4 linked regions of the Homo sapiens genome follow. The protein of the gene in region 4 interacts with the protein of the main gene of each other region in a pairwise test. Each region holds a gene or a part of one and is shown on either strand. Other genes may lie near its edges.

Region 1 (3,450 bases), on a different chromosome or scaffold from region 4:
TCGTCCCACTGTACTCCAGCCTGGGTGACAGAGCGAGACTCTTTACCCCGCCAAAAAAAAAAAAAATTGGTTCTCATGGCTTAGATAGAATAACATAGTGGTGTGAAGGAAGCAAAAGTATGCGTGTTCCAAAGACTTCACCATGCCATTCCTTTAAGAAACAAAAGCTTCCTTGTGTGTTAAATAATTCACTACATAAAAATGGACCATAGGATTGGGTCTTTGGGGTTGGGGGTTGTCACTTGAGCCTCTGCATCCAGCTGCTCGGATGTGGTGTGCTCAGGCATAGCTGGCCTCCTCCTGTCACCTCCACAGCTGGCCACCACGGCACTTTACTTCACATACTCAGCCCTCGAGGAGGAAATGGAGCGCAACAAGGACCATCCAGCCTTTGCCCCTTTGTACTTCCCCATGGAGCTGCACCGGAAGGAGGCGCTGACCAAGGACATGGAGTATTTCTTTGGTGAAAACTGGGAGGAGCAGGTGCAGTGCCCCAAGGCTGCCCAGAAGTACGTGGAGCGGATCCACTACATAGGGCAGAACGAGCCGGAGCTACTGGTGGCCCATGCATACACCCGCTACATGGGGGATCTCTCGGGGGGCCAGGTGCTGAAGAAGGTGGCCCAGCGAGCACTGAAACTCCCCAGCACAGGGGAAGGGACCCAGTTCTACCTGTTTGAGAATGTGGACAATGCCCAGCAGTTCAAGCAGCTCTACCGGGCCAGGATGAACGCCCTGGACCTGAACATGAAGACCAAAGAGAGGATCGTGGAGGAGGCCAACAAGGCTTTTGAGTATAACATGCAGGTACTATTGGGGGCTGCCAGCTGCTAGGGCTGAAGAGGGAAACTTTGACAGTGGTAGCAGATCCATAGTGGCCCATGAAGGCACACATGGCATTAGGACAGATGAGCTGCAGGGTGCCGAGAGGAAGGTGGCCACCAGATTGGCCACCAGAGCTTGTGGGCCCAGTGGGTGGTTCCCAGCATGGAGGCCTGGTGTGATAGATGCCAGTGGGTAGTGTTTTGGGAAGGGTGAGTCCTCTCGCACATAGAGGGGTCTGGAAGAATGGAGCTGGCTTCCTCCCTCATTGCAGGATGCTGGTCTTGAAGAATGGTTAATTTTCTTTTCAAGTTTTGCTCTGAGAAGCCCTGCTTTATAAGTTAATAGAGAGCCAGTGCCACCAAGGAGAGTAAATAAGCTCTGTTTACAAGTAGCCTTTAGATGAGGCTGAACCTGGGGAAGCTTACTCTGTCCCCAGGTCCTGTCAGCTTCCACTGAGGCCTCCCAGGGCACTCAGGATGAGTATGCCCTGCCACAGTCTCATTCTCCCATGTTCCAGGTTTTCTGTTGCTTCTTGATAAAAAAATAACCAGCACCTAGAAATGGGGATGTACTCATGCCCTCCTGTCTGTGCTGTGGTAGTTTCAGTGGCTTGAGCCACCTCAGAGAAGGCTACATCTCTGGTCAGTTCCCAGGGGAGACCCAGCATTTGGCAGCCTTCTTGGGGTACCAATATCCACACCTCCCCAGAGCTCTTGCTAGGGAGGGAAGACCATCAGGCAGTGCAGCTGCCGCCCACCAGTGCTGCTTGCTGTGTAGTTGGCACACCTGAGCAAGCTCACCTGCTCCAGCTCACTCTCTCTGGAGGGCGTCCTCTAAAAGGAGAGTGTAGCCAGGCGCAGTAGCTCATGCCTGTAATCCCAGCACTTTGGGAGGCTGAGGCAGGGGCATTACTTGACCCCAGGAGTTGAAGACCAGCCTGGGCAACCAAGGTGAGACACCATCTCCCCACAAAATTTAAAAATTAGCCAGGTATGGTGGTACACACACGTAGGAGGATAAGGTGGGAGGACCACTTGAGCCTAGGAGTTTGAGGCTGCAGTGAGTTAGCCATGTTCATAACACTGCACTCTAGCCTGGGCAACAGAGACCTCATCTCAAAAGACATTTAAAAAAAAAAAAAAAGTATGGGCAGCCCAAAGATGGCTCAGTCGATCCTCTGCTCCTGCAGATATTCAATGAACTGGACCAGGCCGGCTCCACACTGGCCAGAGAGACCTTGGAGGATGGGTTCCCTGTACACGATGGGAAAGGAGACATGCGTAAATGCCCTTTCTACGCTGCTGAACAAGACAAAGGTAGGTCTGTGTGTCCTGAGCTCCCCTCCTGGGGCAGGTGTAGCAGGAGACTCCACTGATGCCATGTCTCCTATTGGTGCTGCCACACAGGTGCCCTGGAGGGCAGCAGCTGTCCCTTCCGAACAGCTATGGCTGTGCTGAGGAAGCCCAGCCTCCAGTTCATCCTGGCCGCTGGTGTGGCCCTAGCTGCTGGACTCTTGGCCTGGTACTACATGTGAAGCACCCATCATGCCACACCGGTACCCTCCTCCCGACTGACCACTGGCCTACCCCTTTCTCCAGCCCTGACTAAACTACCACCTCAGGTGACTTTTTAAAAAATGCTGGGTTTAAGAAAGGCAACCAATAAAAGCCAGATGCTAGAGCCTCTGCCTGACAGCATCCTCTCTATGGGCCATATTCCGCACTGGGCACAGGCCGTCACCCTGGGAGCAGTCGGCACAGTGCAGCAAGCCTGGCCCCCGACCCAGCTCTACTCCAGGCTTCCACACTTCTGGGCCCTAGGCTGCTTCCGGTAGTCCCTGTTTTTGCAGTACATGGGTGACTATCTCCCCTGTTGGAGGTGAGTGGCCTGTAAGTCCAAGCTGTGCGAGGGGGCCTTGCTGGATGCTGCTGTACAACTTCTGGGCCTCTCTTGGACCCTGGGAGTGAGGGTGGGTGTGGGTGGAAGCCTCAGAGGCCTTGGGAGCTCATCCCTCTCACCCAGAATCCCTCTAACCCCTTGGGTGCGGTTTGCTCAGCCCCAGCTTATCTCCTCCTCCGCGCTGTGTAAATGCTCCAGCACTCAATAAAGTGGGCTTTGCAAGCTACCTCCTTCCCTGCCTCCTGGCACCGGGTGGGTCAAGCCACCTCCCCATAGGAGAGTCCCTCAGAAGCAAGGGCATGTTATGTCTGTGTGGGGAGTGGACATCGTCCATCATGGCTCCCAGCAGCCACCTCCTGCTCTGGGTCTACTCTCCAGCACCTCTAGTCTCCAAAGCAAAGTCACTCTAACCGTCTTGCAAAGATCTTTAAAGTGTATCCAGCACTGCTATTTTTTAGCTCAGAAATACCTTAGAGGTTTCCTACTTAAAAGGTTTTTTTAAAATATATATATATATTTAAAAATAAGGGTTTTAAAAAAGCACATATTTGTATTTAAACAATTCATTCTCTAAAAGAGAAACATGAACTTAAATAATTTTATTAATAGGAATCTACTACCTGTAAAAGTTTTATTTCAAAAAGGGTTAAAAAGTAGGGAAACTCTTTAAACTACTGACCAAGACTGCCACCTTCATAATTCAGATGAGTTAGTGCAGAGATGGCC
Region 2 (3,500 bases), on a different chromosome or scaffold from region 4:
AGCTACTTGGGAGGCTGAGGTGGAAGAATCACCTGAACCCTGAGGTCGAGGCTGCAAGTGAACTGTAATAGTAAGAGTCTCCTCCTAATCTTGTGCATCCTTTCAGAGAGAGAGATGATAGATATTCAAACAAATACATACATATATATAACATATTTATATATATTCTTTTTAACATAAAAGTATAGCCAGGTGTGGTGGTTCACTACTAGAGTCCCAGCTACTTAGGAAGCTGAGGTGGGAGGTTCACTTGAGGCCACGAGTTTGAGACCAGCGTGGGCAACATCTCTTGGGGAAAAAAAAAAAAAAACCCACCATAAAAGCATTCTATAACACGTAATTCTGTGTTTGTCTTTCTTCTCTTAATACATCTTGGAGATCAGTACGCATCAGTATATAGAGAGCTTCCTTGTCCTTTTTCAGGGCTGTGTAGTATTCTGCTGTATGGCTATACCATGATGTTTTCACTAGCTTTCTACTGCCTGACATTTGGGATATTTCCTGCTTTTGCTATTGGACACAAGGCTCTGATGAACAGCCTTTACTATATTTAATTTTTTTGTGAGAAGTTTAACTGGAAGATAAATTCCCAGAAGTGGGGCACCCAGTTAAGGATATGTGACTTTGTCATTTTAACACACACTGCCAGATCACCCCCTATAAATGTTGTGCCACGTATCCTCCCACCAGCAGGGGAAAGGAGGGGCCACCAAGCAGTCTCACTTTAGTGCTTTTCTCTCCTTTTTACCAGATGCGAGCCACCCCTCTGGCTGCTCCTGCGGGTTCCCTGTCCAGGAAGAAGCGGTTGGAGTTGGATGACAACTTAGATACCGAGCGTCCCGTCCAGAAACGAGCTCGAAGTGGGCCCCAGCCCAGACTGCCCCCCTGCCTGTTGCCCCTGAGCCCACCTACTGCTCCAGATCGTGCAACTGCTGTGGCCACTGCCTCCCGTCTTGGGCCCTATGTCCTCCTGGAGCCCGAGGAGGGCGGGCGGGCCTACCAGGCCCTGCACTGCCCTACAGGCACTGAGTATACCTGCAAGGTACGTGCCCATGGGCGGCTGTCCCCCAGCACCACAGGAGGCCTGGGAAGGAGGCCTCCAAAGGATTGCCAGGGTGCAGAGGGGTCCTTATGTTCATTCATTCTTGTGTTTGTTTAGTGGGGAAGCATCCAGGGAGCCCCTGCTGGACTGATACTAGAGAGGTAAACCAGAGGTCGTCCCAGTCCTGGGGGAGTTCACAGCTTAGGCCCTACAGTGTGATAAATGCTGCAGGGGTAGAACTTAGGGATCATGGGCGCAGAAAAGGCCGAGCAGAAGTTAGCCAGGTAGAAGTGGGAGATGGGAGTTGCAGGCAGGGGGAACAGCTGTTCAAAGGCCTAGAAAAGTGAGGGGATAGCACTTTAGAGAATGAAAAGGACTTCTCTGTGGCCAGAGTGGAGAGGATGTGCAGAAAGGGGCAGGAGATGAAGGTTGGCAGCAGCTGGTCATGAAGGTGTTAACAAGGGGCCTCCACTGGGCTGTGCGGAGCTACTGAAGATGTTTGCACAAGAGAAGGGTAGGGCATGGTAGACATCAAAACTCCTGGGACCTCGGAGGTGATCGAGCCTAACCTGGGGCCATTTTACAGATAGGAAGACTGAGATGAAGACAGGAGAAGGGCCATGCGTGAAGTCACATAGCACTGGGCCTGGCTCCTGGGGTAAACTAAGGGGTAGAAAAGTCTGAGGATTCCTGGCAGAAACCAGGAAATGGACAGGGTCAAGGCCCCTGAGGGTCAGCCCATGCAGGACACTGACAAGTGACAGTCCAAGAAGACAGAGATGAGAATAAAAAGTGTAACAATAGGTATTCACTGTGCACCAGGTACTATGATGATTGCTTAGTGTGCACAATCTCTTTTAATCTTGACACAACCAATGAGGTGGTTTCTATCATTGTGCCCCTTTTATAGATAGAGGACACTGAGACTCAGAAAGCCATGGTTACTTGCCACATGACAGAGCCAGGTGGTATCAGAGCTGGGATTGGGCCCAGGAGGCTGAGCCCAGAGAGTCCTGTGCCCGTGCTAGGATAAGCGTTTCACACAATCAGGGCAGGCTGCCCTGGCAGGCAAGCATAAGGAAGATAAGGGGGACCTGGAAACCCAAGGGAGAGTAGCGGGGGCCTGGGTCCCTTGGGAATGCACAGAGAAGCAGAAGGACTTAAGCCTCCTCCTGGGGCAGCAGCAGAGCTTTGCTCTGTTGACGGAGATGCAGTGAACAGCGGGGCAGATCCAGACAGGGTCCAGCCCCTAGCTTCACCTGGCCTCTTGTGCACAGATCTCCAGCGCCCTTACCAGGTGCCCTAAGGAGCCCAGAACTCTGGGTCCCCTTCCTGCAGCATCACAGGCTCTTTTCCACTCCCGCTGGGGAGGTGAGTCCATGATAAGAGGAATAACCCAAGCAGGCTCAGGAGAGAAGCGCCATGCGTTCACAGGGCCCTGATTCTCAAGAAACATTTGGGAAAATCCACTGGAACATACTCACCCCTATGCCAATGTGCACCATGGGTGCTGAATGGTCATTTCCACACTTCCTCAGCTTTTCTGGTCAGTGTGTAGAAAGATCAAAATCTTGTCTTTGTAAATGATCAACTTATTCATTAATTCAACACAACTTCATTGAGCACCCGTATTTGCCATGTACCATGCTGTGGTTAAAAAACAAAGTTCTGTTCTCATCAAGCTGACGTTCTAGTGGGAGATACAGACACTAAACAAGCGAATAAGTAAAATACGTGTCAGGTGGCCGGGCGCGGTGGCTCACACCTGTAATCCCAGCACTTTGGGAGGCCGAGGTAGGCAGATCACCTGAAGTCAGGAGTTCGAGACTATCCTGGCCAACATGGTGAAACCTTGTTTCTATTAAAAATACAAAAAATTAGCCGGGCATGGTGGCAGGGGCCTGTAATCCCAGCTACTCGAGAGGCTGAGGCAGGAGAATCTCTTGAACCTGGGAGGTGGAGGTTGCAGTGAGCCGAGATCACACCACTGCACTCCAGCCTGGGCAACAAGAGCAAAACTCCGTCTCAAAAAAACAAAAAACAAACAGGAAAACCCTTATTCCAGCATCTTTCTTGGTTCCTTTGCAATGCTTATCAGCATTTGTCAATATTTGGTTTCTGGGCATGTTTGCATGGCCTCCCAGTGGGCACCGGAGAGCAGAGCCCATGGCTGTCAGTCTAGCTGGACATGTGGCTGGCCCGTGCAGGCCCAGGGCCAGCATACTGAATGAATGAAAGCGTGGGTGGGCAAAGAGGACGGGAGCTGTGACGGTGATGAGCATCAGGTGCCTTCTGCATCATCCGCCCTTCCGGATTCCTCCTGCTTTGTGGGTTATTTTTCTGTTTGGGTGACCTGTTACTTTTCAGTTATCCGATGTTTGAGGCCATATAGCGTAGCAGTTAAGAGCACAGACAAAAGGCCGGGTGCAGTGGCTCACACCTGTAATCCCAGCCCTTT
Region 3 (3,584 bases), on a different chromosome or scaffold from region 4:
GGCTGTGCAGTGAGGCCAGAGAGGAGGCTGAAGCCAGAGATGGCCAAGGGCCCAGAGGCTGCGGTGTGACCTAGAGGGAAGAGGTGCCTTGTGACTGTTTCTGGGGAGGGGCCTCAGCTTGGTGCCTGCTGTGCAGGGGTGTTCTGTGGGCCTGAGACGGTCCCAGTCAGCCCAGACACTGTGCCAGGCCTAACACTGTTGGCACCTCCTCCTGCTTACCTGGGAAGTGGCAGAAGCTGCTCTCTCCTCCCCGGGAAAAGGTGAGGAATGGGCACTGGACAGCCACTAGGTGGAGAGGACTGTCAGCTGGGAGGGGTAGGAGGGGAAGTGGGACCCACTGCCTCACCCCACCTGGAAGATGGCCTGGGCCCGAGCAGACCACCTTGGAAGCCATGGCGGTGGAGGAGACCTGGTACCACCGAGACCCTCCCCATCAGGCCCCAGCCCAGCAGAAGCTGAAAAGGGGTCACCAGGTACAAAAAGAGTCTGAGACAGCCGAATCAGGCACCATTTTTTATAAAAACGCATAGTCTCATTTTTCACTCTTTAAAATCACATTCAAAAATCGGCAAAGAAACGCCCCGGGGAATGAGTAGACGGGAGGGGAGGGTGCGCCAACCCAGCCCCGGGGGGGAGAAGGCGCGACACCACACAGGCAGCGCGACTGGCACGAGGGGGCATGCGGTGGGCGAGGCGGCGGCACTGACAGGACGTGGGCTGTGGGGCTGGCCAGCCTGGGCGGGGGTACACTGATGGGCCAGGATGGGGGGCACACTGATAGGCCCCAGCCAGCCTCCTTGCTGTGCTGCCCGCCCACCTGGCCGGCCCCGTCCTGGGCAGATGGGGTCGCACCCAGCCCAGCATCAGCGAGACCTCAGGCCAGGCGAGGCCAGTATGGCCCAACCTGCAGGTGCCTTGCTGTGGTCCCTGAGCCCGGGTGCTGGGGGTTGGGGCAAGAGGGGACAGCAGGGAGGGTAGCAGCACCTGCTGCCAATGCCACTCTCTCAGCCAAGCCCCGCAGTGTCAGGGAAGTGGGAGTGGAGGCAGCCAGTGACACAGAGGCTTTTCCTGAATAAGGGCACAGGAGCCCGAGTCACTGTGGGAGGCCTTGAGGGCCAGGGAGACAACGGGCCCCTCCTCTCGCCAACACTGTGGAGCAGGACAGTGCAGGGCCTGCCCCTCTGCAGCAGGAGGGGGTGCAGTGGGAAAATTCAAGTCGGATCCCTGTGCTGTGCCTGCCCCTGGTGAGGGGGGATGGGCCACCCAGCAGTGCCCATGGGCACAGAGTGCAGCCCACAGAGCCCAGGGTGGCACAGCTTGGTGTGGCATCATCCCTCGGGGAAGGGGCGGGAGGGCTGTGCTCTTCCCCCACAGGAAGACACTGGGAGCGGGCAGCCCCTGAAGTCAGGACAGAGGGCGCCGGGCAGCGGCTGGGTTGGTGCAGCAGGAGCCGAGGCAAGCGGGCCCCTCCCGGGGGAGCTGGGCCAGGCTGGGGCCACGGGAAATCACAATAATTACAAAATAAAACCTTTTCCGCTTGGCGGGAAAACAAATAATAAAAATTCGACAAAATAAATTAGAGGTTTATAAAAGGCGGGTGGGCGGGTCAGAGGCCGTTGGCACTGCCGCGCTGGACCAGCGGCACCTTGCTCAGCTCCACCACGGGCGAGCGCGGCTTGTTCTTCATCTTGGGCACCCGCTGCACCAGCTGCTGGGCCTCGCGGTAGGCGTCGCGCAGCTCCTTCTTCCACTGCACCAGCTCAGGGTCGCTCTGCACATGCCAAGCCCAGCTCTGTCAGCTGGGGCTCTCCCCAGCCTGCCTGGCCTGGCCCCTCGGCCCTCCCATCCCTGGCTCAGCCCCCACTCACATCGCACTGCAAAATGAACTGTTTCCCACCGCGGATCTTGAGGAGCAGGCACTTGCGCTCCTTGATCTGCGTCTCCTCCACCGACTGGATCTCCTCCATGGTCAGCAGGCTCTGCTGCAGGGCCAGGGATGGGTGGTGCAGGTAAGAGCCGGGCCGGCCAGCCACCCGGAAGCCCGGCTCCCGGACCCCCGCACGGGCTCCTTACCGGGGCCTCGCCCTCGCCCCGCCACTCGAGGCGGTTGGGGAACAGGTAGAAGTACCGCCGCTGCCACTGGGTCAGGAAGGGGTTGCCCATCTTGGACATGTAGCCATGCATGATGCAGTCCTTGCCCAGGGCGTAGTCTGAGGCGAGAGACAGAGGAGACTCAGCCGGCCCCACCTGGGTTTCTTTTTTGTTTTGAGACAGGGTCTCCACTCTGTTGCCCAGGCTGGAGGGCTGTGGCACAATCTTGGCTCACTGCAACCTCCACCTCCCAGGTTCAAACGATCCTCCCGCCTCAGCCTCCCGGGTAGCTGGGAGTACAGGCGCGTGCCACCATGCCCGGCTAATTTTTTTGGTATTTTTTGGTAGAGACAGGGTTTCACCATGTTGGCCAGGCTGGTCTCAAACTCCTGACCTCAAGTGATCTGCGCTCCTTGGCCTCCCAAAGTGCTGGGATTACAGGCGTGAGCCACCATGCCCGGCCCCAGCCTGAGTTTGAATCCCAGAGCCGCCACTTTCTGGCTGTGATCCAGGGTGAGTTCCTTAAACCCGAGCCAGCTGCTCACTTCTAAGCAGGCAGGGGCCTGGTGCCGCAGCAGCCGGCGACCCTCACCTTCCTCATGGCCCAGCTGCTTGTTCTTGGCTTTCTTGCGAGCCTCCAGCCGGTCTGTCTCAGCGTTGATGGTGTCGAAGACAGTCTCTGCCACCTCCTGCTGCCACCGCTCCGAGATGGTGAGGGGGAAGTTGCGGTAGAGCTCCTGATCACTGTCCAGTAACTTTACCAGGTGGATGGGGCAGGGGCACATGGGTGGACAGAGATGCCGGAATACCATCAGCCACAGGCTGCCCAGACCCAGGGCCCTGGGTAGGGATGGTCAGTGCAACTGCCACCCCCCAGGGAAGTTGGCCAAGGAGGAACTGAGGCCTACAAGCTGGCAGGGCTGGCACAGGGTCTCACAGGTGATAAGAAGGGAGAGGGATCCTTCCCCAGGCCAGGATCACAGCCTAGGTACAAGAGGCCAGGCAAGGCCCAGTACCTTGATTCCTTTTGTGTCCTCCTCATCGAAGGAGCCAATGTCGAAGGCGTCGGCCGCGTTCACCTCCCCTCGTGGGGGGATCAGCGGGGGAGGGTACTGCAGCAGAACAGGGGTCATGGGCATTAGCTCGGGGGTGGGGCTGCAGAGCACCCCCAGTCCCTGCCGCAGACTGTTACCTTCTGCAAGAAGACCATCTGCCAGTCCAGGGAGCGGAAAAAGGGGCTCTCTTTCACCTCCTGAGCCCTGTGGGGAGAGGCCAGTCATCTGGGCTCAGCCCCACCCTGAGTCCCGGGCTTAACTCCTGATTGAGCCACTTTCTGGCTCTGTGAACTTGGGCAAGTTCCTTAAGCCTGAGCTGTTTCCTCATCTCTCAAATGGGAGAACAGAAGTTCCTACATCGTAGGGTTGTGGGTTTTAACACTGGTAAATTTTGCAACCCTATGCCCAGTGCTTAATAAATGTTTGATAAACATAAAA
Region 4 (3,500 bases):
GCAAGGCCGGGGACATGTTACGGGACAAGCTACAGGCTGATTTGTCTCTTCATAGTGTAGATTGCAGAGTGGGACAAATGTTGGGCTCCTCTTCCTCCCTTATGGAGGTAGAATTTGTGTGTGTCAATGCCTGCACCTGAGTGTTCATCCTGATGGGCTTTTACATGTGTGTATACCCATGTAACTACTGCTCTGATCATGTTATAGAATAAGGGTATCCAATCTTTTTGCTTCCCTGGGCCACATTGGAAGAAGAATTTTCTTGGGCCACACCTAAAATACGCTAACACTAATGATAGCTGGTGAGCTAAATAAAACAAGCAAAAATAAAAATAAAAAATAAAGTCACAAAAAAGTCTCATAATGTTTTAAGAAAGTTTATGAATTTGTGTTGGGCCACATTCAAAGCTGCCTGGGCCGCATATGGACTGCAGGTTAGACAAGCATGTTATAGAACATTTCCATCACCTTAGGGGGCTTCCAAGTACCCCCTCCCAGTCCGTGCACCCCAGAGGTAACCACCATTCTGACTCTACCCCAAGGACTACTCTCGCCTGCCTTCATGATGTGGGCTTTTCCCTTAGTCTAGTGGAGATCTGGCCCTTAGCTCAGGGGAGGGAGGCCTGAGGCTAGCCTGTATGTGCAAACCTACTGGCCCTGGAGGCCACTGATGGCTTCAGGTGGTGGCAGGAATTCACCGTAGTAGAGGCCTCCATGGGGTTGGCACTGGTTAACGTGATCCCAGGATCACGCCTGCTACCTCTCCACACATACAGACCCATACCCTGCCGGTGGAGCCAGAAGCGCAGGGGGAGGGCTGACGAGTTCCCTTACAGTTCCTGTCCTTTCCGTCCCAGGTTTGGTCCAAGGAGCTTCTTGACGCAAGGATCCCTTCACCTTAAACTACAATCTGGGTAGTCCCAAGGGCACTTGCACAGAGGGAGGAGACAGAATGGTTAGGGTGGGCGTCCCATCTGTGTCATCCAGAAATGAGCTGACACCAATAGCGGCTGCCCAGACCAGGACAGTGTCCTTTGCCTACCATTCTTCTCAGGTCACCTGGAGGAGAAGGAGAACCCCTCCCCCAGGCTGGGGGAAAGTGCCAGGCAAACCCTTGGACCACACTCCTGCATCCTGGTCTTGGTTACTGCCATAGCCAGGGTCACTCACCACATCTGGTCTGCCCATGGCTTAGGGCTCTGGAGCCATTGGCCGTGGATATATAGTCAGCCTTCCATGCCTGGCTTCTCCGGTAGGACCACAGACCTCAGATCAGCCCATTTATGATCCTGCCCTGGGCGGCTCCCCACTTACAGGAAACCCCACCAAGAGGAATTTGGGCTGCATCATTTCCGGCTTCCTGCCTGGGCTGCTGGAGGTGGCTGGCTGGCAGCCCCCTGACCCAGTGGTGTTTGGAGTGGGGAGAGGGAGGTCTCCACACCTGGGGTGCCTCACTATTTGGGTAAAGCCAGCCCAGAAGTGCATGCTAGGGCTCCCCCTCTTGGCGAAGAAGGCTGGTCCCTTCCTCCTGAGCCCTGGAGTCAGCCCCCCAGGAAGGTGTTGGCGGTCACCTTGGGCATCCCTCTGTTGCCCTGATTGGGAGGGGGTCCCTTAAAAAGCCTAAACCCGCTGCACTCCAGCCTGGGCGACAGAGCGGGACTCCGTCTCAAAAAAAAAAAAAAAAAAAAAGCCTAAACCCAAAGACAGGCCTCTCTCCTTTACTTCCTGTTTTCATGCCTCAGTGGGGGTCACTTGCTGTGGGCAGAGCTCAGGCTGGGCCCCTGACTCAGAGTCTCCTCAATTTTCCTGGGAACTTTGGTGGAAGTCCTTAGAGGGGAAAGGCCTGAGAATTGCCTTCTAGTTGGGAGAGATTCTTATCCCCCTAAGCCTGTCCCTCCCCTGATGGGGATACTTCTGAACACCCTGAGCGCTACAGGGCAAGGCAGAGAGCCAGTCCCCCACCCCCACCCCAGGACAGGGTTTCCTGAGACAGGGTGGGGGCCGCTGGGCAGAGCAAAGTGTCCTGGGAGAGAGGCGCCCTGCCCCCACTCTCAGGCGGCACACAATGGCTGCTTTCTCCCCCGTGACCTTTCCGCAGCCTGAGTCGTATGCAGCTGTCTCCCAAGGGGCCTAGGATGGGTGGCATCTCCTCCACCCTTGAGAAGAACCCCGGAACTCCCACCCAGTCCTGGCCCTGCTTCTTCTCCCAAGTTCACTTTTCCCAAAAGAGTGGAGAGCAGGCTATAGAGGCAGAGGGACAGCAGCAAGTGTGGACATGGCATGGTCTCAGGCATGAAAGTGCCACATCCTGGCAATTCTACTCATTAGCCTCGCATCCTTGAATAAGCCCTTTAACCTCTCTGAGCCACTGTTTCTTCATCACAGAGGTAGCATGTCCTACCTTGCCTGACAGTTGCAAGCAGCATCACACATAATGTACCCAGCTGGTACCTAGTGGGTGCCCAGTCAAGCCCAGCTCCTTTGCTCTGTCCATCTTCCTTAAGAGGGCTCCAGCTTACACCCTCAGTGATGATGGCAGGAGGCTCCAGCATGAAAGGACCTCACCTGCTGGCAGGAGGCCAGAGGCAGGACCTGTGGACGGGTGTGATCTGTCAGGCATGTTTCAACAGCATCTGGCATGCAGCAGCATCTGGGTTGCATCCCCTTGGGGATCCCTTCCTCCCTTCGGGACGGGCTGGGGCAGAGACCTCGTTTCCTGGGAAAAGGCTGAGAGACTGGTAGCAGTGGCTGCAGGGCAGGAAACTGTGCCTGCTGAATGGGCCCTGGGGACTGCATATCCCAGAGGGGTAAGGATGTAGGAAAGGGCATGGCTCTGTCAGCCCCCAGCTGTGAGCTCTTGGGGAGATCCCTCACTGGTAACCTGGCCGTAGTGATGGTCCCAGCTCCTAGGCTGTTGGAGACTGAGTGAGTGAATGTGTGGAGAGTACTAGGCTTGGCACGGGCCAGAGCAGGTGCTCAGGAGGTCTGGCCCATCATCTGGCTCCGGCTGACCCTTGCCCTCACCCTGGCAGACCCTGGCTGGGCATCCATCAGCAGGGGTGTGCTGGTGTGTGACGAGTGCTGCAGCGTGCACCGGAGCCTGGGACGCCACATCTCCATTGTCAAGCACCTTCGCCACAGCGCCTGGCCTCCCACGCTGCTGCAGGTACAGGGCTCAGTCGGGTGGTTCTTCCTTCCCCTCAGGCAGAGTGTGCTGAGCATGAGGGCGTTTCCCCCTCACCCACATACACCCCCATCTGGAATCTGCAGCTTCCAAGGGGCAGCACCCCCCTAGGGCAGAGGCTAATCCTGACCCTTTCCTCCCATCTACTCACTTCATGCAGAAGAGTAGCTCACACCCCTGCTCTGCCACTTATCAACGTGGTCGTGTAGCATTGAGCAAGTTGCTTCACCTCTCTGAGCCTTGGCACACTCATGGGATCTGTGTCTTTGGGCAGCTGGACTAGATGGAGGTGTGGTGGTGCGGGCACACAGTAGGC

Evidence for each region. The genes of interacting proteins can lie anywhere in the genome.
Region 1: the proteins of GIT1 (region 4) and HMOX2 interact in a two-hybrid assay, tested with the Homo sapiens proteins (2 studies listed by BioGRID and IntAct).
Region 2: the proteins of GIT1 (region 4) and TRIB3 interact in a two-hybrid assay, tested with the Homo sapiens proteins (one large-scale study listed by BioGRID and IntAct).
Region 3: the proteins of GIT1 (region 4) and GRK2 interact in binary tests that used the Homo sapiens proteins (3 or more experiments, as listed by UniProt).

The regions. Positions count from the first base shown.
Region 1 is NC_000016.10:4,507,398-4,510,847, forward strand, and holds the end of HMOX2 (heme oxygenase 2), read left to right. Parts: intron 1-315; coding exon 316-807; intron 808-2,014; coding exon 2,015-2,141; intron 2,142-2,231; coding exon 2,232-2,359; 3' UTR 2,360-2,950; downstream 2,951-3,450.
Region 2 is NC_000020.11:387,260-390,759, forward strand, and holds part of TRIB3 (tribbles homolog 3), read left to right. Parts: intron 1-751; coding exon 752-1,042; intron 1,043-3,500. UniProt on the Homo sapiens protein: Inactive protein kinase which acts as a regulator of the integrated stress response (ISR), a process for adaptation to various stress. Inhibits the transcriptional activity of DDIT3/CHOP and is involved in DDIT3/CHOP-dependent cell death during ER stress.
Region 3 is NC_000011.10:67,283,473-67,287,056, reverse strand, and holds the end of GRK2 (beta-adrenergic receptor kinase 1), read right to left. Parts: intron 3,351-3,584; coding exon 3,284-3,350; intron 3,204-3,283; coding exon 3,108-3,203; intron 2,847-3,107; coding exon 2,684-2,846; intron 2,211-2,683; coding exon 2,074-2,210; intron 1,983-2,073; coding exon 1,869-1,982; intron 1,772-1,868; coding exon 1,607-1,771; 3' UTR 501-1,606; downstream 1-500. UniProt on the Homo sapiens protein: Specifically phosphorylates the agonist-occupied form of the beta-adrenergic and closely related receptors, probably inducing a desensitization of them. Key regulator of LPAR1 signaling.
Region 4 is NC_000017.11:29,583,149-29,586,648, reverse strand, and holds part of GIT1 (ARF GTPase-activating protein GIT1), read left to right. Parts: intron 1-3,032; coding exon 3,033-3,166; intron 3,167-3,500. UniProt on the Homo sapiens protein: GTPase-activating protein for ADP ribosylation factor family members, including ARF1.